Homo sapiens: one gene and its partners. The protein of the gene in region 3 interacts with the protein of the main gene of each other region in a pairwise test. Each region holds a gene or a part of one and is shown on either strand. Other genes may lie near its edges. The genes, in order: CRYBB1, TBC1D22B, AP1B1 and POM121.

Region 1 (7,483 bases), 2.7 Mb from region 3:
CATAAAATTGTATACAAAAGCAAGCAAGCAGATTACAGACACAGGTTGAGGATAGGACAGTATTTCCTGGAGTTGGGGAGGAAAATGATGGACTCAAGGGAGACACCTTAGAGTTAGGTAGAAAGTTTTTAACCAAGTCCTGGCTTTTATATGGGTGGTGGGTTTGTAGGTGCATATTGCATTATTAGAAATTAAATAAAACTAATGATTAAATAGGTACATAAATAAAAACCTGCCACGCACTGACCACATGAGAGCGTGTCATGAACTAGGGGTTGCAAAATGGCCTACTTCTGTGACCTGAGGTTGAAACCACACCAAACCAAATCCCAGGGGACTGGACACCTTGCTCCACAGGATGCCTTTCAGCCCAGACCACCTCGAGCAATTTTGAGGGTCTGAGGCCATCCTGCTGCCCCAGTGAGCCTCCAAGGACAGCTGGTTCCCTGCTGCTAAGCCAGCCCACTTCCTTTTCTTCTTTTTTTTTCTTGCTTTCGATAAACTCTAAGCATGTGCGTGTGCAGGTGTAGCCTGATTGCCAGGTGTCCCTTCAGCTGTGAAGCGGTATGGTTTGGTTGTTGTTATTGCACAACTCAACTATAGGTCCCCTTTTTCTTTCTATTCTTTTCTTTTTTTTTTTGATGGAGTCTCCCTCTGTTGCCCAGGCTGGAGTGCAGTGGCATGATCTCAGCTCACTGCAACCTCCGCCTCCTGGGTTCAAGTGATTCTCCTGCCTCAGCCTCCCAAGTAGCTGGGATTACAGGCGCCCACCACTACGCCTGGCTAATTTTTGTATTTTTAGTAGAGACAGGGTTTCACCATGTTGGCCAGGCTGGTCTCGAACTCCTGACCTCAGGTGATCCACCTGCCTCGGCCTCCCAAAGTGCTGGGATTACAGGCATGAGCCACTGCGCCCGGCCCCACTTTCTCCAAGTGTGTCAGAACCCCTGGCTATTTTATGGGCTCCCAGATTGGCTGGGCCACACTTGTGTCCCAGAAGGAGGAGGGAGGAGGAGGCCAAGGTGAGGGAAAAAGAGAATAGGGACAGAGGATAAGAGTCTGGGGAGGTGGAGAAGAAGAAAAGGGAGAGTAAATAGAAAGGAGAGAAAATAAGCCAAGAAAAAGGAGGAGAAAGAGGTGCGGAGGAGTAAGAGGTGAAAGAGGAAGAGGAGGAGGAGAAGAAGGAGGAGGAGGGAAGGAAGGAAAGAAGGCATGGCACCCAGCCACTGCACCCCCAGGTCCTTACCCTGTAGTTCCCAGGAGGCAGTTCCGCCGCCTTGGCGCTGGTAATAGGCACGGTTGTTGGGGCCAGGGTAGTGCCGGGACTAGGGGATGTTCCTGCAGGTGGGGCCCCCTTCCCCTTGGTGTCAGGCCCTGGGTTCACCGCCACTGTGGCCGAGGCCGAGGCCTTTGCAGCCTGAGACATGGTTCCCGCCTGCAAAAGTCTGTAAAGAAACTCTGGCCTTCAGGGATGACACCCCCAAACTGCCTCCTGCCCTCATAGCCCCACATCCTGTGCTTTCAGCCTCCTTGGAGCTCGTTTCCTCTCTATCTCCTTCTGAAACGGTTAAGCCTGGAAGTTTTTCTTTCATCCCTACTTCCCAGCCAAGACCTTCCCGTCTGGGGGCCACTCATCCCACATATATCCTTCCTCCAGGCTTTTGACCATGCGGTTCCCTCCACTAGCTGTTCCACCCTCCATTACCCCGCTAGGTCCTTCCTTAGCCCCCTGCAATTTTCCACACTGCTTATCACACTGATTTGCTTGTGCAACTCCAATTTGCCTCCCTAGACTAATAACAAGAAGTCCCATTTGGGAGTACTTAAGGTGTGCCAGGCACTGTGACATACATTAATTAACCCATCTGACCATGAACCTCACCCGATGGAGTAGCTGCTATCATGATCCCCTCTGAGCAGCAGGGGGCTGGAGAAGGAAGGGGCCCAGCTCAGGCCCAAACAGCTACTAAGTGGTAGGGCTCTGATTTCAACTCAAGGAAATGGAGCCAGCAACTGGGCTTTTAAAGTATTCTGCCATTTGCTTAATCTGATTTATTCACCGTCCATCCCTAACACTTGCTCTGCACCTGGCACATAGGAGATGCCCAATTAACATTTGTTCAGAGAATGAATGAATGCATGCTCCCAGCTCCTTTCCCCGTCTGCTTCCTCTGAGGGGTTGGTGTATGGGTGCAAATACAGGCCGGGGACTGAGGCTTATGGGAGGACCCAAGAGGATGTATTTACTGCATGTGGAGGGTTCTGAAAATGAGGACTGGGGCTGGGTAGGCTTTGGGTGGAGAGGGCTTTGGTCAATTCCAGTGGTTCCTTGTTGCTTTGGGGTCGTGGACTCCTTTGAATGTTTGATGAATACCTCAACTTTGTCCCCGGACAAAAATAATGCTCTCTTTAACTTTGGAGACAATGTTAAGGGATTTGAGGACCCCCTGCTAGCACAGATTAAGACCCTCTGGTCAAGCTGATTCCCGAACACATTCTGTAAGGCGGAGCTAGTTGGGATAAGCACATCCCTCCCCCAGCCTCCTCCAGGAAGGCTGTGCATATTCTGGGGTGCCCCCTGTTCACCAGGGGTGAGGCCAGACATCTGGACCACATCTGTGGCTTTAAACACTCCCCCAGGGCTGGCAGCTGGACTCATGCCTTCCTGGAGATATTCTCATTCTCTCTCTCTCCCTGCTTCACCCTCTCCCTCTGTTCCTCCTCTCTTCCCTGTCTTTGCCTCTCTATCTGTTTCTTACTTCTCTCCCTCTTTCTGCCTATCTGCCTGTCTGTTTCTCTCCCTCTCTGTTCCTCTCTCCCCCACTATCTCTCCCTCATTGTATCTTTGCTTATCTCTCTATCTGTCCTTTTTAATTATATTTACTTCTCTCTCTATTTCTGTCTTTTCTCACTCTCTCCCCTCTCCCTCTCCCTCCCTTTCTTCCTCTCTCCACTTCCGTCTTTATCTCCATGGCCCTGCTCTCTGACTCTCATGGCACTGCTATCTCTGCCTCCCTCTCTCTGTCTCCCTTTTCTCTTCCCCTCCCCTTCAGCTCTCAGCTGGGCTGTGGGTTCCCTCTTACCTGGGGACTTGCTACTTCCTGCTGGAGGACAGGCAGGCGGGCAGGTGCTATGGGTGACTAGAGTCCGACCCCCCATTTTATAGTCTGGCAGACATCAGGCCCTATAGTCTGTGGCACAAAGGGGAAGCTGGCTCAGCAGGCCTGGGCAGGGAGTGGGGGACTGGGGCCCTGACCTCGCCTGGATCACTGCAGACAGCAGCACTTTCCTTTGTGAGACCAGCACACACAGCAGAAACCCTGGCCACAGCAGCTTCACCTTCCAACCCTACCCTGACTCCTTTCTCAACAACCCCAGCCAGGGATGGGCCCCCAAAAGGGTCCCTGCTGGCTGCCAACATGGGGCAGGGAAAAGGGGAGACCCTGGGAGGCAGGAGACCAGAGTTTGAATCCTGACTCAGCCACTGCGCGCTGTGTGGCTTTTGGTAGGTCTCTACCCCTAGGGGGGCCTCTGTGTCTGCAATTATAAGGTGGGCACGTGTCCCTGTTGGATGCCATATAGAAAAGAAGGTGACAATGAGCACAGAAGCGTTTTGTAAAGGCAGATGTGGGTTTGATATGGACAGCCTTTTTTACGGAGTGCTTACTGTGTGCCGAACCCGTGTTATCTCGGTCAGTCCCCGGGACAATCTGCCTTATTTGGTACTTTCATTATGCCCATTTCACAGAAGAGGAAAGTGAAGGCACAGAGAGGTCAGAGCCAGCCCAGGCCAGCCAGCTCTGGGCCTGTGTGCTTTCTTCTCCTGCTGTCCAGCCTTGACCTTGGCCTGAGGCCCCCTGGCCTGACTTCCTCTTTGTAGGTTGGGGTGGGAATGGGAGAGTCGCACTGTGCTCAGCTGGGTTGGATATCGGAGACCTGGGTCTTTTTCTTTTCCCCACATTGGGCCCCATCCTTTCCTGACCTATCGACAGTGATCCCTCTCGCCACCCCAGTTCCCCGCCTCTACCCAGGCCACGTTATCTGACCTGGAGGACAGTGCTGGTGGCCAGAAATATGACTGCCTGTCCCAGAGCCTCCTGCCCTGGCAAGCCCCAGATGCCCACCACATCTTGTTCACCACTGGCCCCAGCACCTAGCTGGGCCTGGCTAGGTAGAGCTTGGCACATCATGGGTTCTCAGTCAATAACTGGTGACTCAATGGTGGTTCCAATGGATCGGAACAGAAGGTAGGGTACGGAGGAGATAGGGAAACCAAGGCAAGGAGAGAGAAGTAAGGAGGCAGATAGAAGTAACAGACAAAGAGAGAGGTGGAGACAGAGACACAGAGAGGCACAGGGGACATGGACAGTGAAGGAGCGAGAGACGGAGAGACAGAGGTCAAGTTGGGGTGATCAAGCCTCAGGACGGAGGAACAGACGCCAGAAATCACAGGGCCCAATCCTCCCATTTCACAAATGGAGAAACCGAGGCCCAGGTGGAACAAATGACTTCAACATAGTCACATGGCGGGAACTCACAGTACAGCTGGGGTCAGAAGGAGCCTGGGGAGCTGCTCAGCTAGGTCACCTGCAGTCGGCTCCCCAGTCCCAGGCAGGGTATATTGCGGGGGCATCTGGATAGGCTCCTGTCTCTTCTTTTTCGGGGTTCTAGGCTCCCCGTGGAGCCCAGCTCTGTCTTGAACTCTCCCTGGCCTGGAGCCAGCTTTGCCTCTGTCCCTCCACCACCCAGCACCCCCTCGCTTCCTAGCCTCTCCTTGGCCTTTCATCCTGGGCCAAGACTTGGTGGGTGGGGTGTGGGCAGGAACTGCAAGATGGGGTAGCCACTGGAACTGGGGCCAAGACGCCTGTGGTGAGGGCCCACCCACCAGTCTAGGCTTCAAAGCCAGGTCATCTGGGGCAGTTCCGTGCCCCCCCTAAAGCCCCAGGAATGGGCTGTCTGCCAGAGGGTGGGGGCAGAGAAGGGGGATGGCCCACCATGTTGGTGGCTCCACTCTGAGCATTTATTATTATTATTGTATCCTTCATTATATCTTTTTCTTTTTTGCCCTGTCTTATGGAGCCAATTTATTTTCTTTTCTTTTTTTCTTTTCTTTTTTTTTTTTTGCATTGTCCTGTACTCCTCAGTATAAGGATGAAGTCTCTGGGATTAACCCCAATTACGGATAAGGAAACTGAAGCAACTCCCTTTCCTTCCTCTCTCTCAGCCACTTTCTCATAAAAATGGAAATGTAAGATAAAATTGGAACTCACATCTTCTTTACTCATGAACCCAGGCTCTTAAAAACTATGCACCCCTGCTTTTTGATCAACAATTAATAATAATCATCTTTCTTATTAGCAATGGTGATGATGAAGATGATGGAAATACCACAATATTTTTTATGTTGCAGGAGCAATTCCAGCTGCTGTTCATGTGCTATTCACATTTATCCTCACAATCCCCCTGTTTCTTAGACTAATCCCAACTTACCTTGTTACACCCATTTTACACACAAGTAAACTGAGGCTCAGAGTGCGTAAGTAACATGCTTAAAAGTTACCCAGCCAGCACCAGTGGGATGCAAACCCAGGCAGTCTGGCTGTAGAGGGTGCATTGTTAACCTTTCATTTTCATGCCAACCCTTCATCAAAGTCATGCATTCCTTTTTTTTTTTTTTTTTTTTTTTTTTGAGACGGGGTCTTGCTCTGTCACCCAGGGTCAAGAGAAATGGCATGATCTTGGCTCACTGAAACCCCTGCCTCCAGGTTCAAGCAATTCTCCTGCCTCAGCCTCCCTAGTAGCTGGGATTACAGGCGCCCGCGCTACTCCCGGCTAATTTTTGTGTTTTTAGTAGAGACGGGGTTTCACCATGTTGGCCAGCCTGGTCTTGAACTCCTGACCTCAGGTGATCCACCCACCTCGGCCTCCCAAAGTGCTGAGATTACAGGCGTGAGCCATTGCGCCCAGCCTAAAGTCATGCGTTTGATAGAGCTGCATTTCACCCTCTTAAAAGGAAACTGGTGTGGCCACTTTACAGGTCATGAGCAGGACTCAGGTGTCCTCCAGGTCACACGGATGGTAAGAAAGAAGCAGGGCTGGATTTCATCTCAGATGATCTGGTTTCCAGTCATGCTGTTTTCCTATGCTTGTTACACCCATTTTACACACAAGTATGTATGTATGAGGGACCTCTTAGGTCCCTCATACGCCAATTCAGAGGGCAGGGTTTCGGGACAAGAGGCACACAGCAAATTGTACAAGTCCTGGATATTTGGCAAGTGTGCCACAGTTTGCAAAGCATGTTTGCAACTAACAGCTCCTCTATGCTGCCCACAGTGCCATCCGGATTCATCTTCAGGCTTTGTGGACCCAGCAGGCCCTGGCCTAGCCCTCTTCTCCTGCCTCACTTCCCTTCAGGTCCCCTGAGCTCCAGGCCAATTGGGCTACCAGCTCTTTCTTGTACATGTGCCCCAAGTTCCCACCTCTGAACTTTTTCTTAGAATGCCTCTCCTTCCATCTCACTCTGTACATATCTTCCTCATCCTTCAGAGTCTAGTTCAAATGCCTCCTCTAACGGCAAGCCTATCTGGATTGCTTCAACTGGAAGAGAAAGGGGAAAGAGAGAAGGAAAGGAATAGGCATTTCCTGAATGTTTACTCTGTACCAGGCATGTTATGTAACCTCACAACAACTCTGTGATATGGTTTGTTTCTGCCCCATTTTATAGGCAGAAATTGAGGGGAAATGACTCGCTGGAGCTCACATAGCTAGGAAGGATGCTTCTGGACTCCTCATCTAGTGCTCATTCTCCTGCTCTAGTCAGGAACCTTGTGGGGCTGATGAGGGCCAATATTCCACCTCTCTCCTTCTTCGTGGCTGATCCCTGGGGGTGGTGATCTGGTCCTTTCCCTCCCTGCTAAAGCCAGAGCTGCTGACGGCTTGCCATTGGCTCTTCAGCCAGGGCTGGCTTTTGTTTCTGTGGCCCAGTTGCTGAGTCGGGGCTTTGTCTCCCAGGGGCCCCTCTTCCCTCCCTGCCTATAAGAGCCCGACCTCGGCTGGTCTCAGATCTGACATGTTCCCTGGGCCTATCTCGGTAAGTCCCAGGTTTGGAGGAGGGGTGGGATCAGAGTTCTGAGTGAGCATTCTGGGAGGCGAGGAACCCAGGTCCCCAGTCCTAGGGATGTCACTGTGTCATCCTGAATGCCATCCTCATCCTAACCAAGGATGAGCCCCAACCATCAAGACCAGCACCTGCTTCCCTCATTTAAAAACAAATTATTCCTGTAGCCCTATTGCCTAAATTTCCACCATCAGAGCTACCTCTTTGAGCTAGGTGCTGTCTTTGGAAGGGCTCTCTTATGCTGAGCATTTCAGCACTCGCTGGGGTGATGCACCCACCCACCAGCAGCCACAAAAATTTTCCCATAACAAGCAGATAAGAGAATACAGAGTGGGGCTCAGAGTCAATGAGACCCAGCAAGGG
Region 2 (7,401 bases), on a different chromosome or scaffold from region 3:
GTAAGGAGGTATGGTGAAGGTGTTCGTCAGAGGCCAGTTTGGTTGTGACTTTGATAGAGTTGTGTTTAAATAATCTTGGTTAGGGTGGGGCATGGTGGCTCACGCCTGTAATCCCAACGCTTTGAGAGGCCAAGGTGGGCAGATCACCTGAGGTTAGGAGTTCAAGACCATCTTGGCCAACATTGGTGAAACCCTGTCTCTACTAAAAATACAAAAATTAGCTGGGCGTAGTGGCATGCGCCTGTAATCCCAGCTACTCAAGATGCTGAGGCAAGAGAATCGCTTGAACCCGGAGGCGGAGATTGCAGTGAGCCAAGATTGCACCACTGCACTTCAGCCTGGAAGACAGAGCGAGAATCCATCTTAATAATAATAATAATAAATAATCTTGGTTAGACTTCAAGCCACACTGTGGCATTCTTTTACATTGAGTTAAGTGTAAACTACCTGGGACTGTGTTTAAATGGAGTATATAAACCGAAGGCATCCCCAGCTGGAGTTACCTGGATTAACTTTTTGCTGCAACTACTGGGGTCAACAGAAAGGGGTGACATTTCTCTTACAAGGAGCCCATGCCTAGATGTGGCTTCTTTCCTGTCTACTCAGAATAGGCTATGTGTGTCAGACCTAAGTCTTTTCCTACAAGTTGAGATTTTTTTTTTTCCTACAGGGTGTGAGAGTTGGGCTTTTGGCTGTGTATAGTTGGGGAGAATTATAGCTGTGGTGGTATGTGGCTTGGTTTACTTGGCGACTTCTCTTCCTAGGCTGCAGATCCTTCTAGGCCCTGACCTTCTTCTTTTTAGCTGCTTTTTTCAAGGTAAAGTAAGTAGTTAGTAGCACATGCTGGCCCAGGAGTCAGGTAGACCTGGATTTGAGCCCAGACCTCACTGCCTGCTCATGATCTCAGTAGGCTTCAGTTCCCTCATCTGTAAATGGGACTAACAAAAATACCCACCTCATAGGATTATTAATGGGCATTAGATAAGAAAATGGGTATATATTAAAATTTAGCATAGGGTCTGGTGAGTATTCAATATTTATGAATATTATGAATATGTATGAATATGGCTAGTGAGTAGCCAATATTTATATGTATTTATTTGTGAATTTATGTATCTCCTCTGGAGAGAGCATAACTAGTAAACATGGAAAAGCTTCAAAGCCTTAAATTTACCCATCATTGTTTATTGCTCCTGGTCTGTGGATTCTCTGCCTTCTCTCAGTGGTAACCCAAAGTACCTTTCACTTCTTGCTTTGCTGTTTCATTCTTTTCTTTTTTTCTTTTTTTTTTTTTTTGGAGATGGAGTCTTGCTCTATCACCCAGGCTGGAGTGCAGTGGCACAATTATGGCTCACTGTAACCTCTGCCTTCCGGGTTCAAGTGATTCTCCTGCCTCAGCCTCCTGAGTAGCTGGGATTACAGGTGTGCACCACCACACCTGGCTAATTTTTGTATTTTTAGTAGAGATGAGGTTTCACTATGTTGGTCAGGCTGGTCTTGAACTCCTGACCTCAGGTGATCTGCCTGTCTCAGCCTCCCAAAGTTCTGGGATTACAGGCATGAGCTACCATGCCCAGCCTTCTCTTTCATTCTTGTGGGTGGTTCTCACCAACCTTGTTTTGTCCTCAGACTCTTCCCCTTTTCTAGGTGAAACCAACCCCTTCCTCCACGAAAGCCTCTTTCCTCAGGACAGAGCTGACTTTTAAATTGGTTGGTTGAATTTGGGGTTTTGTGGGCTAGGTATCCTTAAAATCATTTCTAGCAGCCTCAAAATGGTCTGCCTTGAATCTCATGTCTTTATGTCATGGGGAATGACAGCCTTTTCTCCCTTCTTTCTTCTTCATTGTGTTGGAAAGTGTCCTCCCAGTTTCTATTGGCAAGTCTTCATTTGAGTAAATTCCAATCTTAATCTACTTCAAATATATATTGAATCATTATCTGCTTCAAAAATATAATGAAAACTGGTCAGGCATGGTGGCTCATACTTGTAATCCCAGCACTTTGGGAGGCCGAGGAGGGCAGATCACCTGAGGTCAAGAATTTGAGACCAGCCTGATTAGCTGGGCATGGTGGTGCGTGCCTGTAGTCCCAGCTACTCAGGAGGCTGAGGCAAGAGAATCGCCTGAACCGAGGAGGTGGAGGTTGCAGTGAGCCTAGATCGCACCACTGCACTCCAGCCTGGGTGACAGAGCAAGGCTCCTTTTCAAAACAAACAAAAATATATATATATATAAAACGAAAACCTTCAAATGCATAAAAAGCGTATGAAGAAAAATACAACACACACCCTGGTACCCACCCCTCAGCTGGTTAACGGCCTTCATTTTTCTCAGAAGTCAGCACCTGTTAGAACCTGACAGGCAGCCTGGCCCGTCTCTCCCTGTAGTGTGTTCATCCGGTCCTGGTGTGCGTGTGTGTCACCCTGTGTTAGGCCACCAGCTTCAAGTCAGCTCTTTGACCTGAGTTAAAATTCAACTTCTTGATTTGATGATTGATTAAAGAATTCTCAGAACATCCAGTATTTATGCAATCTTAATGTACACGTGGCCTCTAAGGAGGAAAAACAGTAATAACCACATACTCCTGGGTGTTATATTAGATGACAGATCTTTCTTACACAGCTGCATGTTTGTTCTCGACAGCGAATCCCCTGAGGTGGTACTGCAGGTGGTAGATCAGGTCCCCTTTTACAAAGGAGAAGCAGCCATGGTGGATGAGTCCAGAACGTGCAGCCTCAGTTTTATTTTCTTTGATTTGGGTACTTGTCTCCTATAGTTCTTTTTTTTTTTTTTTTTGAGACGGAGTGTCACTCACACTGTCATCCAGGCTGGAGTCAGTGGTGTGATCTTGGCTCACTGCAACTTCCACCTCCCAGGTTTAAGCAATTCTCCTCCCTCAGCCTCCCGAGTAGCTGGGATTATAGGCATGCGCCACCATGCCTGGCTAATTTTTGTATTTTTTTAGTAGAGATGGGGTTTCACCATGTTGGCCAGGCTGATCTCAAACTCCTGACCTCAAGTGATCCATCTGCCTCCACCTCCCAAAGTGCTGGGATTACGGGCGTGAGCCACTGTGCCTGGCCACTCAAATAGTCTTGTTTTAAGAACAAATATTATCATTTCTATAAATAGAAAACAACATTTGTTATAAATAAGAAGAACTTCTGGGCGTGGTGGCTCATGCCTGTAATCCCAGCAATTTGGGAGGCTCAGGTGAGAGGATCACTTGAGGCCAGGAGTTTGAGACTAGCGAGAGCAACATAATGAGACCCTTATCTCTCAAAAAAAAAAAAGCTAGACATGGTGGTGTGCGCCTATAGTCCCAGCTACTCAGGAAGCTGAGGTGGAAGGATTGCTTGAGCCTAGGAGTTCAAGACTGCAGTAAGCCAAGATTTCTCTACTGCACTCCATCACTCCACCCTGGGTGACAGAGCAAGGCCCTGACTCTTAAAAGAAAAGAACCATATAAATACTCAGTGAAAAACCAAACAATCTTATTAAATCCAGAGGCAGATCTTGTTGCTAGCAAATATATTGATTCTGAGGCTGCCGTCACTTTGGCACCTAGTTAGAAAATGGTCTTAAAGACAGAGTAGCACCAAACTTCAACTTTCTTCTCAAGGCCAGCAGAAGAACTTTTAACAGAATAAAAAATGGAACAACTTTTTTATTTTGGGACTTAATGTTTAATGCTACATATGTGGACTACCTAAAATTATCTTGTTTTCTGCCAGTAGTTTATGTGCTGCTCTAAGTGATAGCAGATCAACTGTCAAATCTCTGTGGATTAACATAGTAAAGGTTTATTTCCTGCTCATGCTACATGTCTAAAATGGGGGTGGGGTAAGGGCAGAGGGCAGGCTCCTCGACATAGTTACTGCTGCTCCACATAGCCACTCAGTTACCTAGGCTGAAGGAGGTTCTACCATCTTGCCAGTGCATCATGATAGAAGAAAAGCTATGGATCAGGCATGGTGGCTCACACCTGTAACCCCAACGATTTGGGAGGCCGAGGTGGGAGGATCACTTGAACCCAGGAGTTCAAGACCAGCCTGGGCAACATAGTGAAACCTTGTGTCTACAAAAAATAATAATAAAATTAGCCAGGCATCGTGGTGTACACCTGTAGTCCCAGCTACTCAAGAGGCTGTGGTGGGAGGATCACTTGAGCCCAGGAGGTCAAGGCTGCAGAGAGCCATGATCATACCACTGCACTCCAGCCTAGGTGACAGAAACTCTGTCTCAAAAAAAAAAAAGAGAGAGGTTATACAGAACTGACACCTATTCTCTACTTTGCCTGGAAGTAATCGCCTCATTTCTCCTCAGTCCATTGGCCGGTATTGGTCATATGGCCTCACCTAAGTGTATGGGGGCCAGGAAGTATACAAGAGCACATGGGATATTTGGTGACCATTGCTGTCTCTGCTACATCTGTCTCTGCGATCTCAGGCTGGTCTGGATGTATCTAGATGAAGAATGGATGTGGGCAATTTTTGTTTGAAGAAGCTAATGATTATGTATGTGGTAGTTTGTAATTTATTAATATTACAATAATAAGCAAATGTAGGTGGTCAGATGTGTCAGGCCATTCCTTGGTAATCGTGTCTCCTTTCTTGAAGTTTCATTAAAGAACGATCAAAAGTCAACACAGTTCCTCTGAAGAATAAGAAGGCCTCCAGTTTTCATGAGTTTGCACGGAATACCAGTGATGCTTGGGACATTGGCGATGATGAGGAAGAGGACTTTTCCTCACCTTCTTTCCAAACTCTGAACTCAAAAGTTGCTTTGGCAACTGCAGCCCAAGTTCTAGAAAACCACAGCAAGCTGAGAGTAAAACCAGAACGGTCCCAGTCAACGACATCGGACGTCCCTGCCAACTACAAGGTCATAAAGTCCAGCAGTGATGCCCAGCTGTCCAGAAACTCTAGTAAGTCCTTCCTGCTCCCTTCATAGCCTCAGCCTTCTCAGCAGCGTGCATTTTAAATAAAAGCGATTTTTCTTTGGGGCCTCACTCAGGTAGATATTCAACTGGGCGGTAAATAAACTCAAGCCTGAGATGTGACATCATTAAGCCTGAGTGGTCACAAGCTATACTTGCCCCTCCCACAGTGGTGGCTGCCCAGTCTGGTGACCTGGGCCTTCACTCTCTGACACCCAGGTGTTGTTTGCCATTCTCCTCTTCTCTTCTTCCTTTCCCTGTGGTGGAGTCCACAACTTCTCTGGTTTGATTGCTTCACATTGCTTTAGGCCTGGTCAGGTTTAGAAATAGTAACTGATGTATTTAAAGCTGTTAGTGGCTGAATTTCACAATTGTTTGGCACTGTGGTTTGACTTTCTCAGCCCTAGGGAACAGCCACTAGCATAAGGTTGTCTTTTCCTGTTCCTGAGGGAGGGAGCAAATGTGCCTAAAGGCCCCAGGTCCCAGCTTCCTGACCATCAGGCAGGTCCCATCAGGTTGGGTGGGGTAGAAGTAGAGGCCTCTCTGTTTCTTTTCGGGAAACTGGCCACAGTAATGGTTGATGTGTTGGTGGTTTTATTAGCTTTTGGGGACTCTCAGTGTATTCCTTTAAATATTCATGGTTATGTTTAATGTTGCCCTAATGGGTTTTATAAAGTATGTTGGGAGCTGGAGAGGGAAGCTTTGTCATCGCAGTGAGAGTTAAAGCAGTGAGCTGGTACAGGATGAAAAGGAAGTAGAAGAACATCAGAGCCCTGGAGTGTACCCTGGCTCATGTTCTGAGGGAACTTTTTCGTGGCTGTAAGGTCTTTGCAATCATTGCACAGTTATTTTCCATCACTGATTTGGGCTCTAGCATGAACCTTCAGTGCCATGCACAGATAGGCATTCAGTGTTACTGGACCAGGTGGCCACAGCTGCAGGCCGTGGAAGGTGTCTACACACTGTGATGGAGGGTCTCCAGAGGTTTCCAGTGTGAGGAAGGCCCCTACCGTGATCCATGATGAGCTGCCCTGTGCAGCCAGGACCTCCCCCGCCCAGCCCAGAGCATTCTCCCTGAGGAGGTTTTCTCCTGCCGGCATCTGTCTGTAAATAGGTAATATGAGATTTACCTCTGTCTCAGCTTTGCAGTGTGTGTCTGCATTTTCTAGTCCCCTTGTTACACTAGGCGTCCCAGCCAACTGCCTCATGGAAGTTGTTTTTGTAAACCTTCTAGTAGTGCTGGTTGGTTGATAGTCACTGCATCTGTCTGTAAATAGGTAATATGAAATTTACCTCTGTCTCAGCTTTGCAGTGTGTGTCTGCATTTTCTAGTCCCCTCGTTACACTAGGCATCCCAGCCAACTGCCTCGTGGAAGTTGTTTTTGTAAACCTTCTAGTAGTGCTGGTTGGTTGATAGTCACTGTTTAATTTTTGTTGTGACTACTACTTTTTAAGGCCCAGCCGTGTAAAGAATATGAAACAGTCATGTAAGCACAGCTAGAATTAAAAACTGAGTTTTGCTTGTGGTAATACAAGAGTTTTAGAGTCAGGCTTACCTAAGGTGGTTTTTCACTTCTCACTTGCAAGTTATTTAACCTCCCTGAGCTGCAGTTTCTTGTCTGTAAAATAGTTATACATTCCTACCATATGTTCTAAGGATCAAATGAGAGATCATATGTAAAAGTGACCTATATGCCTTATACATATGAAGCACTCAATATACGTGAGTCCTCTACTGCTTATTCCCCCTACCCACTATCTAGTGTAGAAATGTCAAGAACAAGACAGAGTTCAGTTTGAGTCTTTGTTTGTTATTTCAGTCATATCTTGGCAGAATTAAGAACTGGTTGATTTTGGTGGGAAATGTAGGAGCACAAAGGAACCGCAGCCACCAAAGGCAGGATTGCCTTAGGCCAGAGCTTCTCACCATTGTGCAGGGCACACTGGTGGGCCAAGAACCGGGTACAGGATGTGCGGGGATATTGATCCTTTTAGTCCTTGGAGCAGCTGGGGGTTCTGGGGCTTGTGGAGAGCAACCACCTCCATTTATTGCAGCCTTGTGCTTTGTGGTGTCATCTGCAGTGTCATCATTCCTTATGTGCTCTGTGGTGTGGAATGGGAAGGAAAACACTGCCTTAGACTAAACTAAACTCACTATTTGGCACCAAGAAAAGTTCCAAGTTAGGGTAGAAAGAAAACATTTGATTTTCCTTTAGAGTCACCAAAAAAGTTCTCAAAAGTTGCTGCAGCATCTGGAGTCTCTGTTAGCACCTTTAGAGTCACCAAAAAAGTTCTCAAAAGTTGCTGCAGCATCTGGCGTCTCTGTTACCACCTAAGGTGCCTTGGTGTGTTTGATATAAATGCAGCCCTTTCTCTGGGCAGTGAATGGGGTGTGGCTGGGTTCTGGCCCCTCGCTGCCCTTCAGCTGGGCACCTCAGACAGTGCACACAGGCAGCCACACCC
Region 3 (7,000 bases):
GCAGGTGGATCATCTGAGGTCACGAGTTCAAGACTAGCCTGGCCAACATAGTGAAATCCTGTCTTTACTAAAAATACAAATAATTAGCTAGGCATGGTGGCAGGTGCCTGTAATCCCAGCTACTTCGGGAGGCTGAGGCAGAAGAATCGCTTGAACCCCGGAGACACAGGTTGCAGTGAGCTGAGATCGCACCATTGCACTCCAGCCTGTGTGACAAGAGCAAAACTCTGTCTCAAAAAAAAAAAAAAAAAAAGATGAACACACAAGCCTAGTGCCAGCTTGCCAAAGGCCAGCTCCAGGCTTATTTTTCCTGGCAGCTCTGCAGTGCCTGGCAAGGGCTGGCACCCACAGGGTTACAGGAGTCTTTGCTGTTCTCTGTCCCTTAGTCCTGCTTTGTATGCCTGTGATATTGGGCTTCTGGTGAGTACGAGTTGGCCTCATGCCTTGGTGCAGCTAATCCAGGTAGTAAGTCAACTGCACATGCTGTACGTTATGCCGCGATTCTACGTTCCCGTGGCCCTGCTGGCCCTGACACCCCACGCATGAAGGCAGGTGCACAGGTGGTTCTCACGCTCTGTGGGGACCATCATATAGGGGTCTGGAGCAGAGGCTTTAGTGTCACTTGCTTTCACTTCCAGACTCTGTCACCAGCTATGTGACCTTAGGCAAAAGCACTAGGATTTCTCAACCACGAAATAGGAGGAAGAGCCACAAAGGGCTGCTGGGAGGAGGACGTGCTGGCGGTGGCTGTGGAATGCTGTGCTGTCCCTACAAGGAAGTGTGCGGCTACTAGTGTCCGAGTTGCTGTCTGCTGTGGGCCTCTCAGTGCCCAGACCCTGCCAGGGGCTCCAGTCACCACCACTGCAGGTGCAGCTGGCATATGGTGGGGAAAGCCAGCTCAGGGGGTGGGGAGGTGCTGGCTCATGGCTCCCTAGTCATGACAGAGCTGTCACTGCCCCTGACCGCCAACTGTATCCTGCTTTGGGGTGGGGACCTCAGAAGAGAGAGGGGAGCTCTGGCAAACACAACTTCTGATCTGAGTGTGATGAGGGGATCAGGCCTGGTTGGTCCCCTCTGGCAGCTTCCTTGACACTGACAACATGGCCCACACTGAGCTCTCCTCAGTGCCAGGCCCGCATGTCCTCACATCCCAAACTCAACTCTCCTTCCCTCAGCCCCGGCTCCTCCCTCCCAGGGAGCTCTCAAGTCTGGCCGCTGTTTCCACCCACAAGAGCCCCCGTGGTCCAGCTGCCCCAGCACTCCTCCTCCCTGCCACGGAATCCCCCGGGGCCGGTGCTTCTGCCCCACCCCTTCCCTGCAGACGCAGCCATCTTTCTCAAGTGCAAATCAGACTGGTTCATCTCTTTGCTTAAAACTTTCCAATGGCTCCGGCTGTGCCAGGATCAAGAAGAAACGCTCAGCCTGGCCCGCCAGCCTTGCCAGCTTCCTCCTTCACTGATCCCTAGTCTAGCCAGGAGTCTTGGGGGTGTGCCCTAGGTGGCATAGTGGGCATCTGTGGGCATCTTCAGGTGGCATAACATGTAGTGGGCTGGAGTCAGGGATGCTGGACATCCTACCATGGGGACAACCACCCCACAACAAGCAACTGTCCTGCATCCTTCCAGTATTTTCTGCATGGTTTCAACATATCCTGAGACTTCCAGGAACACAATTCTCAGGAAAATCGAGGGAAGCCTGTTCTTTATCTTACTCCAAACCTTACTGGGAGTCAGTGACCACTTCAGAAACAAATGGCACCACTGGCCAAACCATTCACGGGGTCCAGGCTACAAACACCCAGACTGTGGTTGCCACAGTCACAGTGACTTTGCCCTGCAGCAAACACCTGGCAACTTCATGTCTTCTGGGGTGAGCGGGCAGGCGTGCCCAGACGTTTATAACATTGATACATACACTTGTATTCTCTCCCTTTTATGTCTCCTCCATGCAGTGAAAGCATCTGAGTATTTTTGGAATGCTATGTGTAGGTAGGTTACACAGCCCACCAATTGCATTTAAGGAGAGGAATGGTGACAATGTAAAATGTCTATGATGACTAAGGGGTGCTGAGTCTGATGGCACTGAGAACTACTGCTCCCACCTGACAGGCCTCTGCTGATTCCCTCACAAAGGCCGTGGTCTCCCTTCCCTCCAGGCCTTACCACAGACTGTTCCCTTGGTCTGGAGCCCCTATCCGCTTTTGTTCAGCTACTGAGGTCCTGCGACTCCTCTGGAAAGCCTTCCTAGGTACCCACCAAGCTTGACTTAGCTCCTCTTCCTCGGTGCCCCTGTGGCCCCCAGCTTCCCTCATCACTGCTGGCCTGAGCCAATTCCACAGCCGAGGCCATTTAAAGGAGCCCACATGCCAGTCTCCATAACTTCTCTCTGCTCCCGCCAAGACAGAAGACAAGTGACTTACTGCTTTGGGGGCCACATATGATCCTGACAGGGTGCCCACGCCACTGGTCAGGTCAAAGAGGTCACTCAGGCCACTGCCGATGGGTGCTCCAAGATTGGCTGGTACTGCTGCTGTTGGAGGTGCCACGAAGTTGGTGCCCCCAATCTGGAAAGGGAGGGAAAGAGTCAGAGGTGGGCGTCAAGAGGCAAAGACATCAGGGTCTGGGAATGAGTAGAGCCACCTGGCTCTTTAGAAGACACTGGGGGCAGGGGGCAGGACAGCCTCCATATCAACTCTAAATTACAGAAACAAGACAGAGAGAGGTGGGTGGAGAAGAGAGGCTGAGCCCTCCCGTGCCCTGCAAGCCTTGAGCCTTAGGAGTAACCTCTGGGAAAGGGCTGGGGACACTCCCAAATTGACGCTCAGCCTATGGATAAAAGGAGGTCCCAAGACACACGGCTGGGTGGAGACATGCTACGCAGATGGGTGCTCTCCCTCCAGGACATCAGAGAAGGGTTGTGGGACTGAGGGCTGGCAATCCCCGCGATGACAAGGCGACGTGTCATGGGGTGGTGAGGACTGGGCAAGAATCCATGGCTATGGGGCCCAGTGGCAGCCGGATGCCAGGTGGTCAAGACAGAGGCTGCCAGGATGCTGGACCAAGGCAGGGGCTCAGCAGGTGGAGGCTGCTGTGACATCACCCGCCCCCGCCCCTTGGGATGCTGGGCCAGCGCTTTCGGGAGGAGCAAGGACGAAGGCTTGGTGACGCAAGGGTTGAACCATACCCCTTCAGGCTCATCCCCCATCTCCAAGCAGAAGCAGGCAGGTGAAGAGAACAGGCAGCCACATGCAGAGAGAAAAAGCCAGGAAGGAAGACAGAGAAACAAGAGAGAGAAGGGAAAGAGGGAGATTAGTCAACGGTAGCTCCATCCGAGAGGAGTGTGGTGTGAGGTCTGGCGAGAGGCCCAGACCCTGTCTCTATGAAAGGCACTACCCCACACCTTTACCCCAACACCTGTCCTGCACCACAGCCCTTCCTGCCTCACCCTAGCAGCACTGATCACCAGTGTCCTGCCCCCGTGCTGCCACCGTGCGGACCTGAGCCGAGCACAGCCAAATGAAGAGGTTTAGGCGCCCCCACACATGGTCCTGCCAGTTGCCTGAGGAAGCCCCAGGGAGATACCCAAGTCAGTCTCACCACTCCCCTCCCTACTGTCTTCCCACTCCCCTCTCTCCCCGGCCTCCCATGCCCTCTCAAATAGGCCTGGATGGGCTGCTATTCCCAGCTGGCGCTGCATAAGGGTAAGTGGACACAAGTCTGATTCCTCAAAGCCAGGAACACCCTAGCCTTACAGGGCAAAGGTGACTGTGATGCCAGGATCAGGGCAAGGGCTAGGATGCGCCTCCCTGCCCAGGGTCTCCTGGGACTCGAAGGTTCAACAAGGGAGTGGAATCCTGTCTGCCTCTCAGGGGCTGTGCGACCTCGGAGGGAAGGCTGCCTGGCCTCTCTAAACCTTGGTTTTCTCATCATAAGTAGGGAGCTACACAATCACCTCCAAGGGTAAATGGTAAGGACTCTATATAATGTACCTGAGGCACTCAGCTGGTGCCTGGCATGGAGGGGCATTCAGTGACTGCTCCTCTGAGGATCATTATCAACATCATCCAGAGGGGGCCCACAACATACCAGGCTGTCAAGGCCACCGCCAAGAAGGTCCACAGCTCCCATCTGCACCGAGGAGGTGGCCAGGGGTGGGCCGCTCACTGGGGGGCCGAGGTCCAGGTTGAGGAGGTCACCCAGCAGGTCGCCCTGGGCGGGGATGACATCTGGCTGCTCCCCAGGAGGTGCTCCAGTAGGGGCTGTCTCAGGGCTCTCTGCGCTCTCACTCCTGCCGGGACACAGAAGTAGGGTGGAGGCATCAGGATGTCTCAGGAAGGTCAAAGAGACCCCAGCCTCCAGGCAGAGCTGTCCCCCAGGACAGGCACTGAGTCTCCTCACTGTCCCCGACAGGGCTGTCCACACGGCCCCACTTCTTCCCCATTCCCATTCCCACAGCAGGTCCATCTTTCAGGTCCTCCGTGAGGATGAGTGAAGGGAGAGGGCCGCCTGCTTCTAGCCCTCAGCCCATGCTAAGAAGAAAACTGGATGCCAGTGCCCTAGGACGGTGCCACCAGGCCACACCAACCACCTGGGAACAACAGAGGAGGAGGCGCAGACAGGGATCTGGAATGAGACAGAACTGGTCTGAGTCCCAGCTCTGCTAGCTGTGAGATCCTGGACCAGTCCCTCAAGCTCTCCTTGTCTCTTGTTCCCACCTGAAGAATGGGGACATTTGCTCTCAGCACTGTCGTTAGGCTGGAATGAGGTCATCTAGCAAATACCTTGTGTACAATAAATAGCTGATAAAAGGTTGTCAGTTTTCCTCAGACTCAGGTCTTGCTGGGGGACAACACGCCAGGCCTGAGTGCCTGTGCTGCTAAACTGGGGAAGCAGAGTGTGAAGGCGCAGGCCGACTGGCCAGTCTCACTCACGAGGCCGTGCGAGGTGGCAGGCTCTTGTGCACGACGCCCCGGCCCCCCTCCACAAAGGCACTGGGAGGCTTATGGTAGACGGAAGCCAGCGTGCCGATGTAGCAGATAAGCTCGTCTAACAGTGTGGGCTCGATGAGGTCCGTCTCTTCAGAGATGAGTGGCTTCTCAGCCAACACCACCTCCTTGGCTGCCACCGGGTCCGTGGACAGCAGGCGCCAGTAGATGTAGCCACGGTCCCGCAGGTCTGGGTTATCTGAGTCCTTGTGGGGGTGAGGAGAAGCCCATGAAACTCAGAGTAGCCAGGTGAGAAGGGAGGAGACCTTCCTGCAGCCATGAGCCAGGTGCGGCACAGGGGTGGCCAATGGGGACAGCAGTCCTGAGTGCTCCCATGAGCCTGCCCCTATACCACCTACAGGGCCATGCCCTGGCCCCGGGCTCATTCCCCATGGTACTCTACTCCAGCCTGGCCATGCCTGTCTCTACTCCCAACCGCCCTCTGTGGCCTGCCCTTCCTGCCCCCAACACACACCCTCAGGTTTCCATGGGCCCTCCTCCTCTGTCTAGTTTGTCTCAACTTCACTACTTGACCTCACTGCACTTTGTGTTGTGTTCTAAGCACCCTGAAGGCAGGGAGCTTGGGTAACTCTGGGGCTGGAAGCCAGTCCCACCCACAAGATACCTGTCTTAGGAGCGGGCCTGGCTTCCAGGTCTAGTTCCTGGGACAAAAGTTCCCCTGCTTGAGTGAGGGCTATGCTGGGCACAGCGGGGAGGTTGGGGCACCCACCTGAGTGGCCAAACTGAGGACCTGCTGCACCAGCTCCTGGGTCTCTGTTGGCTTCTTTAGAAAGAGTTTCACAATGGCTGTCAGCAGCTGCAGCTGGACCTGCAGGGAACAGCGGTGACGAGGAGGAAGTGTGGGCCTCACATGGGGATAGAGGGAGAACAAAAAGGCTTGAAGAGGAATAGGGTGTTCAAAGTCCCTGGAAGCCAAGCATAGCTATTCTAGGTTTGGGGCTGTCACGGCACACAGGCAAAGGGCTGCCACAAGTGTTGGTGCCGCTGAGCAGCCAGACCTCGGCATCACTCACTCAGGAAGGAGCTGAATACTGGACTATTTGGCAAACCCAAGTAGGCCAGGGGCCGCTGCCCAGCCCTAGGGTTTTAGAAACCTGTTGGAGCTCTAGAATTCACAGAACTATGAGAAGCTCACATGTGTGGCTGGAGTGCTTCTTATCAGGACCATCTGTCAACAAGTGGCGACAGTCCCATGGAGGCCCAGGGGACTGGGGCAGCAGGGCCCACAGAGCCTGCCGTCAAGGACCTGTGCTTCTACCAGAGGGTTGGAACTATTCCTGGTGGCCCTCCACCGGCCCCTGCCACATGCCTGGACATACCCAAAGCTGCCCTCATCCTGGCCAACACCTCCTCACCCTTCAGATCTCATGCCAACCCCACCTCCAGACCCCCCATGCTTCTGCAGCCTCTTCCACCCCGTCACAGCGCCACCAGTTGCTGGCTATCCTGTACAGTGAGCCCCCTGTGGGCTGGAGTGATGTCTGTCTTGCTTACTGTCGTGTCACTAATTACTGCCCAATCTAGTGCCTGGTGTATAGCAGGCACTTAAGAAATACTTGCTGACTGAAGAAACATCTATGCGAGAACAAGTCTCTGCACATAATCCTTCCTTAGTCACGGTCTCATTTTTGCTAGTCCTAGGACAAGGGGGCAGCCTGATGCTCCCGGAGTCAGGGGCAGTGGGAGCCCATAGGCTGTGCCAGGGACAGGTCTGCAGCAGGAGGGCAGGAGTGGCAGTGCAGGAAGCCCAGCAGCAGCCGTGCTGACGGCATCTCTGGCACCTGCCCAGCAGGAGGGCACTTGTGCAGGGAAGGCTGACAGAGGCAGGCAGAATGGAGGGCACGTGGTCCTCCAATTCTGGGGTGAACCAGAGTCTGCAATTTGGTTACATGGGGGCCAGCAGCAGATGAGCAGTAGGCTGGCTGTTTCCAAGGCAGGAGGCAGCCCAGCATCTGGCTTCCAGACTCTAGCCCTGCCTGGGCAGCCAATGGGAAG
Region 4 (7,106 bases), on a different chromosome or scaffold from region 3:
TTTTCTATTCTTCTTCCAGAATCTGCTGGAGCAGCAACCACTGAGGCCCTCTCACCTCCAAAGACACCCAGCCTCCTACCCCCGCTGGGTTTATCACAGTCAGGGCCGCCAGGGCTGCTCCCCAGCCCCTCCTTTGACTCCAAACCCCCGACCACTTTGCTGGGGCTGATCCCTGCTCCATCCATGGTACCAGCCACTGACACCAAGGCACCTCCAACCCTTCAGGCAGAGACGGCTACCAAACCCCAAGCCACATCTGCCCCGTCCCCCGCCCCCAAGCAAAGCTTCCTGTTTGGAACACAGAACACCTCACCTTCCAGCCCTGCCGCCCCTGCTGCATCTTCAGCACCTCCCATGTTCAAGCCCATTTTCACGGCTCCACCCAAGAGTGAGAAGGAAGGCCCCACACCGCCTGGCCCTTCAGTCACAGCCACAGCGCCCTCCAGCTCCTCCCTCCCCACGACCACCAGCACCACAGCCCCGACCTTCCAGCCTGTCTTTAGCAGCATGGGGCCACCTGCATCTGTGCCCTTGCCTGCTCCCTTCTTCAAGCAGACAACTACTCCCGCCACTGCTCCCACCACAACTGCCCCGCTCTTCACTGGCCTGGCCAGCGCCACCTCTGCTGTGGCTCCCATCACCTCTGCCAGTCCATCCACAGACTCTGCTTCGAAGCCTGCGTTTGGCTTTGGCATAAACAGTGTGAGCAGCAGCAGTGTGAGTACCACGACCAGCACCGCCACTGCCGCCTCACAGCCTTTCCTCTTCGGGGCGCCCCAGGCCTCTGCTGCCAGCTTCACCCCGGCCATGGGCTCCATATTCCAGTTTGGCAAACCTCCTGCCTTGCCCACAACCACCACAGTCACCACCTTCAGCCAGTCCCTGCACACTGCCGTGCCAACGGCCACCAGCAGCAGCGCTGCCGACTTTAGTGGTTTTGGCAGCACCCTCGCCACCTCCGCCCCGGCCACCAGCAGCCAGCCCACTCTGACGTTCAGTAACACGAGCACCCCCACGTTCAACATTCCCTTTGGCTCAAGCGCCAAGTCCCCGCTCCCATCATATCCGGGAGCCAACCCCCAGCCCGCATTTGGGGCCGCTGAGGGGCAGCCACCGGGGGCCGCCAAGCCGGCCCTTGCCCCCAGCTTTGGCAGCTCTTTCACTTTTGGAAACTCTGCAGCCCCGGCTGCTGCACCCACACCTGCACCTCCGTCCATGATCAAGGTCGTGCCTGCGTACGTGCCTACGCCCATCCATCCTATCTTTGGCGGTGCCACGCACTCGGCGTTTGGGTTGAAAGCCACGGCTTCGGCCTTCGGCGCTCCCGCCAGCTCACAGCCCGCCTTTGGCGGCTCCACTGCTGTCTTCTTCGGTGCAGCCACCAGCTCCGGCTTTGGAGCCACCACCCAGACCGCCAGCAGCGGGAGCAGCAGCTCGGTGTTTGGCAGCACAACACCATCACCCTTCACGTTTGGGGGTTCGGCAGCCCCCGCTGGCAGTGGGAGCTTTGGGATCAATGTGGCCACCCCAGGCTCCAGCACCACCACCGGAGCTTTCAGCTTTGGAGCAGGACAGAGTGGGAGCACAGCCACCTCCACCCCCTTCGCAGGGGGCTTAGGTCAGAACGCCCTGGGCACCACCGGCCAGAGCACACCGTTTGCCTTCAACGTGAGCAGCACAACTGAGAGCAAACCTGTGTTTGGAGGTAAGGAGGGGCGTGGACTTGGGCTACCGGGCCGGACACTGAAAAGCTGTGCCTGCGAAGCCTGTGGTCTCGGGGAGCTTATGCTGTGGCAGTGAAGAGACAGGCACTGAATATAGAACTCAGTGAGATGCCAGGGAACGATACATGTTTTGCTAACGTAGTAATGACTGGAGGAGCCATTGTGGATTTAACTGGTCAAAGGCCTTCTGAGTAGTTAACAATTGTAAGCTGAAGGTTGGGCGCAGTGGCTCACGCTTGTAATCCCAATATTTTGGGAGGCCAAGGAGGGTGCATCACTTGAGGCCAGGAGTTCAAGACTAGCCTGGACAACTTGGCGAAACCCTGTCTCTACTAAAAATACCAAAAAATTAGCCGGGCGTGGTGGTACCCACCTGTAATCCCAGCTACTCAGGAGGCTGAGGCACAAGAATGGTTTGAACCCAGGAGTTGGAGGTTGCAGTGAGCCAAGATCATGCCACTGTACTCCGGCCTGGGTGACAGAGCAAGACTCTGTCTCAAAAAACAAACCGTAAGCTGAATATGGGGGTGGGCACAGCACAAGTGGACATGCCTTTCAGGCCCAGGATGGCGCATGCAAAGGCCCAGAGGCAGAAACATGTTTGGTATGTTGAAGAGCAGAACAAAGACAAGCATGGCAGGAGGGCAGGAGCTAAAGCAGTGGTGTGGAAGGAGGCCAAGAGGCAAGGATTGTTTGTGGCCAGGGTTGGGTGTTTGGGTCTTAAGTGTTCAGGAAAACCATTGCAGAATCAGGCAGAAGGATGCAGTGATGGTTCCTCCCATGTGGAAGATGAATGTAGATCCCATGGCTTCTGTTTGCTTCGTGAAGTAGAGAAAATCTGGGAGAGAGAGGGTCAGGATAAAGTGTATAAAAAAAGGGGTCTTTTGAAATAGTCATTTTGGACAGTGGGGGAAAGGAACATCATATTAAAAAGTGTGATCAGTTTCCAGGCAGTTTGTGGGCTGGAAAATTGTGATTGTGAAGTTAAAGTGAGGCCAGTTAGCATGGCATGTGTTTCCCAGCGACACTGTGGGTGTAGACCTAAGGTCAGCGGACAGCTGGTGCCACCCGGCCATGGAGACCCCAGCAAGCACAGCAGGAGGGGCAGCGGGTCAGTGCCCCGATGCAGCTCAGGGGGTGCAGGAGTGGAGAGCGGGTGAAGTCAGCTGCAGGAGGGGTGGTGCCTACAGGAGATTCGGGAGCCGGAGCAGTTGTGGTGACAGTGTGGCTGCAGGAGTGGTGGCAGGGGTCGGGGAGAGGAGGTCATGGGGGTGGCAGGGTTGAGGGGCTGAGAGGACCATCAGTCAGCCTCACAGGGCGAAGTCACCGTGAGTGGTGATGGGAAGGAAGCCAGTGAGCCAAGGGTCCTCTGTGAATCAGGGAGTGACCTGGCAGTTGACAGGTGACATGAGGACATGGCAGATTAAAGTGATCTGAACTTGAGTTACGGTATTTAGGGAAGGAAGAGAAACAGTGTGGAAGCAGCGTGGGAGCACAGGGAGCTTCCTCTTGTCCGGGCCGGAGGCCAAGCCCTGAGAGCAGCCATCCCTGCAGAGGGGCTGCCAGAGAGGGCCTCGGGCAGGCAGCCAGAGCCAGTCAGGGCAAGGCCGGGGAAGGGAGGGGACCACGGGGCATCACAAAAGACGCGGGACGGACAAACCAGGCTTCAGAGGGGAGGGGACGGTGGCTGGGGGAAAAGGCCTGAACAGAGGAGGTAGCCAACCCAGGTACGCTAGGAGGCGGGGGCCCCAGAGTACTCCCCTCTGCAGCGATGGTCAGGAGGCCCACGAGGTGGCTGCGGGGCAGGGGGGCTTTTTCTCTGCCCTGGCGTGGCCATTAGCGGGTGGGAGAAGCAGGCTGAGCTGGGGCACCAGGCATGAAGACTCGGTTGTCTGGCTCAGCTGCTGATGGAGGAGTGCCCCAGAAGCAGAAGTGGGGCTGAGGGTCCCGTGGGAAGTGCCCTGCGGAGCACAGGCTCCTGCCCGGCTCCTCGCTTGCCTCTGCCCTCTGCTCACTGGCCAGCTCTCTGTTCTCTTCATTCCAGGCACCGCCACCCCCACCTTTGGTCTGAACACCCCTGCGCCTGGAGTGGGCACATCAGGCAGCAGCCTCTCCTTTGGGGCATCCTCAGCACCCGCCCAAGGCTTTGTTGGTGTTGCACCTTTCGGTAAGCAGCAAGCCACCCTGTGGCCCTGCTCATCTGTCTGAGGAGGGGTTGGGCGGGGTGGCAGGTTCCTGGTCCTCTGAGGCCCGGTGAAGATCAGGTTCAGCACAGGAAAGACATTTCGGGTTAGGAGTCCAGCACAACCCAGGGATGGGAGTTGGATGGCAGAGATCAGAGAGGAGCTGTCCGGGGTGGAAGTTTGCCTCCCATGGGAAGCCAGGTAAAAATGGATTCTTGGGCCTCGCTCTGAGACTCTCTGGGAGTTTGCATTTCAGGAGGCTTCTCCCGTACAGTGTTTCTGATGCAGCGGGGAAAGCCCTATTGAGGCACCCTGTGTTTTATTACTGGCCTGGCCTTCCAGAGATTTGGGCACCCAGAGTCAGAGTCTCAGGTAGCAGCTGCCCTGATGAGGTCTTGTTGAATCTTTCCAGGATCGGCGGCCCTTTCATTTTCCATTGGTGCGGGATCCAAGACCCCAGGGGCTCGACAGCGACTGCAGGCCCGAAGGCAGCACACCCGCAAAAAGTAGCCTTTGTCCCCTGTCCCTGTTCCCCCCACCCCTTCCCTAAATCTGGACCTTGGCACCTGCTAGGAAGAGCCTTGGACCCTTCCAGTTGCGTAAAGCAAACCTACCCCGGATCTCTGGCTTCAGCCGCCAGGGGGCAGTGGCAGCCCTGGGGCCCTTTCCCTTCTGGAGGAAGCACAAGCCTCAGGGAAGGGGAAGCAGGATGCGGAGGGCCAAAGCCCGGGACCTCTACTTGAACAGTTCTACTGGGGAGGCTGGAGAACTAAGGAAACACCTGTACATAGTGTCCGCTGCCCTGACTCCCGCTTAGCACACCCTTAGGCAGGCGCCCCTTCCACCTTTCCCCGAGACCGTCGTCGCTGGAGGGGGCAGGGTCCAGCCCGCCTGGATCGGTGGTGTGCACCTGATGGGATTTGGGAAATGGGCTATCCGTAAAGCTTTATCTTGCTTGGCTTAGCTGTGAGAAGTGGTTCTCTTCCTCTGGTCCCTTCTGGGGACTCTGTTTCCCCATTTCTTGCTGCTGTGTCCCTCACCAGTTCCTTGCAGGATTCCTTCGTTTTTAAATGCCCTTGAATCTAGCTTTGCCTTGGAGACCCCAGTGGGTGCTGCTCCTGCCGTTTTCTTCCTGCCAAGCCTGAATCAATGTTTCATCTCCAACCCTCTGCCAGTTTGGCCCCTCAGAGCTTGGTGGCTCAAGACTGTTAGCCTGGCAGAGCCAGGGGTGAAGGGAGAAGCTCTTGGAGCAGGCAGGATGCCCACCGCTGCTTCAGCTGCCTCCTCGCCCAGCTACCCTTTGGCCCCATTGGGCCCTCGTCTGCCTCTCCAGGATTGTATGTTTCAAGCCTTGTCCTGTGTTCCTTTGTCTGATGCTCTGTGTATTGCTCTTTGAATCGAGTTTGGAGGAAGAGTTGAGTTGTATGAGTGGCGGCATGTTGGTAGTGCCGGACTTCCTGTTTCAAGTTTTCTGGGGCCTCGCTAATTGAATGTGGAAAGTAGCACCACTTGACGGCTACAAGTGCCGACTCCTGAATTTTCCCATGGTGTTCTGACTTCAAGGGCTGGCAGCCAGGGAGAATGGGCCCAGGGGAAGCAAAGACCTCTTCCCTCTGCCGTTTCTGTCCCACTTAACTGACCTCACTGGAGGCTACATCACCCAAAGTAGATGTTAGAAAACCTAAATTAATGAACCATATTTTTAAAATCCTATTTTTCCCAAACAGGGCCCTCTGCAGCCCATCCTTTCCTTCCGTCCTTCTGAAACCACATACCCCAGGCCCAAGCGCCTTGCTGCCACGCCCAACCTCTTTGGGAGAAGTATGAATGCGTGTGTCTAAATTAAAAGAAAAAAATATTTAAACGTTTTTTAACAAAAATTTATTTTTGTATTTAAGCTAAATTGCCTTTTAAATTCCTTCAAGCTTGGTTCATTGAGGTGGTTAAGTATAAATGCTATTAACTAGGAATTAGCTGTATAGTTAAGTTATGCCTGTGCAAAGAAGAGGCTCAAATGCTGTCCCCGGCAGCTTTCCTGGGGGACTAGAGCTCCTTCTGGCCATGTTATATGAAATGTAATTCTTATTTTATAAATAATGTGATGTAAATGTAACTGGTGCCCCCTCCCCGATGTGACTGAGGGTGAGTGAGTGGTGGCGGGGCTGCTCCTTCCCACCCCTCAGAACAGCTCTGATCCTCGTTAATACCTGGCTGCGTGTGCAGCTGAGGAGGGAGTGAACCTCAAGCCTAAATACCTGTTAGGATTGGAGGGTCTGGGTGGGCCTGGGCCTAGCAATCAAGCTTCTACCTGTACCTTATGTAAGGTAGACCCTCCTAGTGTCAGTACCTGAGCTAGTTTACCTCAGTTCCGCAGGCAGGACAGCCGGTCCGGGAACCCTGAGTGAGAATGAGTGTGGATGTGTACAGTACACGCACTGGACGGCAGCGGGAGGCTGGGACTTTCCATTACAAATAGAGACTTCATTCCTGTTGAGTCTAGTTGGAATTTTTAGTATGAATGTGAGATTTTTCTCCTGCTTGTGACATTAAGAATAAAAAACTGTGATCTATCGTAGAGTACGTTCTGCATTTTATTTCTGCAGGCAACACTTTTGCTCACCAGCAAGAACACAGCCCGAGGAAGGGACCCAATAACCTTTCAAAACGCAAACTGCTGCCTGCGGTGAGGGCCCAGGGTCTTCCACGGAGAGGACAGGCATCTTCCTTTCCCACCAGGAAGGAGTGAGCCCGGAGCCTCTGCTATGTGCAAGGCGGTGTGCAAGCACCGGCTGCAGCTTTTTGCTCTCTTCTTTCTCTTTGGGGCTGGGCTGGGTGTGCGTTCTGGTGCTGATGCTTTGGCCTGTGAGGCTGAGCTAGAGAAATGTAGATGTTAGATGTGCCAGTACCATCCTGCGCCTCCCAAGCATGCCCCCACTCACTCACGTCGGCATCTCGACCCGTTCAATTACAGCAACGAAGAAGCCACCGCTAAGCGTGGTCTTGGGGGAAGCCCGGAGGCAGTGCTCGGCACCCGGGAACGTGCTCAGGCCTCGGTGGGGCCGGGCAGGCAGGGCGGGAGCTAGCCTGCAAGAGAAACAGCCCCAATGCTGGGTAAGAGAGCAGTTCACCCCATCCCCCCCTCCACGACCCTGGCGCACGCCCTGTACCTGAAGGCGCCCGGGTTCTGCTGCAGCGCATC

What was found.
Region 1: the proteins of AP1B1 (region 3) and CRYBB1 interact in binary tests that used the Homo sapiens proteins (3 or more experiments, as listed by UniProt).
Region 2: the proteins of AP1B1 (region 3) and TBC1D22B interact in binary tests that used the Homo sapiens proteins (3 or more experiments, as listed by UniProt).
Region 4: the proteins of AP1B1 (region 3) and POM121 interact in binary tests that used the Homo sapiens proteins (3 or more experiments, as listed by UniProt).

The regions. Positions count from the first base shown.
Region 1 is NC_000022.11:26,614,894-26,622,376, forward strand, and holds the start of CRYBB1 (beta-crystallin B1), read right to left. Parts: upstream 3,135-7,483; 5' UTR 3,084-3,134; intron 1,446-3,083; 5' UTR 1,427-1,445; coding exon 1,247-1,426; intron 1-1,246. UniProt on the Homo sapiens protein: Crystallins are the dominant structural components of the vertebrate eye lens.
Region 2 is NC_000006.12:37,274,686-37,282,086, forward strand, and holds part of TBC1D22B (TBC1 domain family member 22B), read left to right. Parts: intron 1-4,618; coding exon 4,619-4,926; intron 4,927-7,401. UniProt on the Homo sapiens protein: May act as a GTPase-activating protein for Rab family protein(s).
Region 3 is NC_000022.11:29,336,571-29,343,570, forward strand, and holds part of AP1B1 (AP-1 complex subunit beta-1), read right to left. Parts: intron 5,814-7,000; coding exon 5,715-5,813; intron 5,191-5,714; coding exon 4,931-5,190; intron 4,288-4,930; coding exon 4,086-4,287; intron 3,205-4,085; coding exon 3,184-3,204; intron 2,564-3,183; coding exon 2,420-2,563; intron 1-2,419. UniProt on the Homo sapiens protein: Subunit of clathrin-associated adaptor protein complex 1 that plays a role in protein sorting in the late-Golgi/trans-Golgi network (TGN) and/or endosomes.
Region 4 is NC_000007.14:72,941,818-72,948,923, forward strand, and holds the end of POM121 (nuclear envelope pore membrane protein POM 121), read left to right. Parts: intron 1-19; coding exon 20-1,705; intron 1,706-3,768; coding exon 3,769-3,891; intron 3,892-4,319; coding exon 4,320-4,417; 3' UTR 4,418-6,482; downstream 6,483-7,106. UniProt on the Homo sapiens protein: Essential component of the nuclear pore complex (NPC). The repeat-containing domain may be involved in anchoring components of the pore complex to the pore membrane. When overexpressed in cells induces the formation of cytoplasmic annulate lamellae (AL).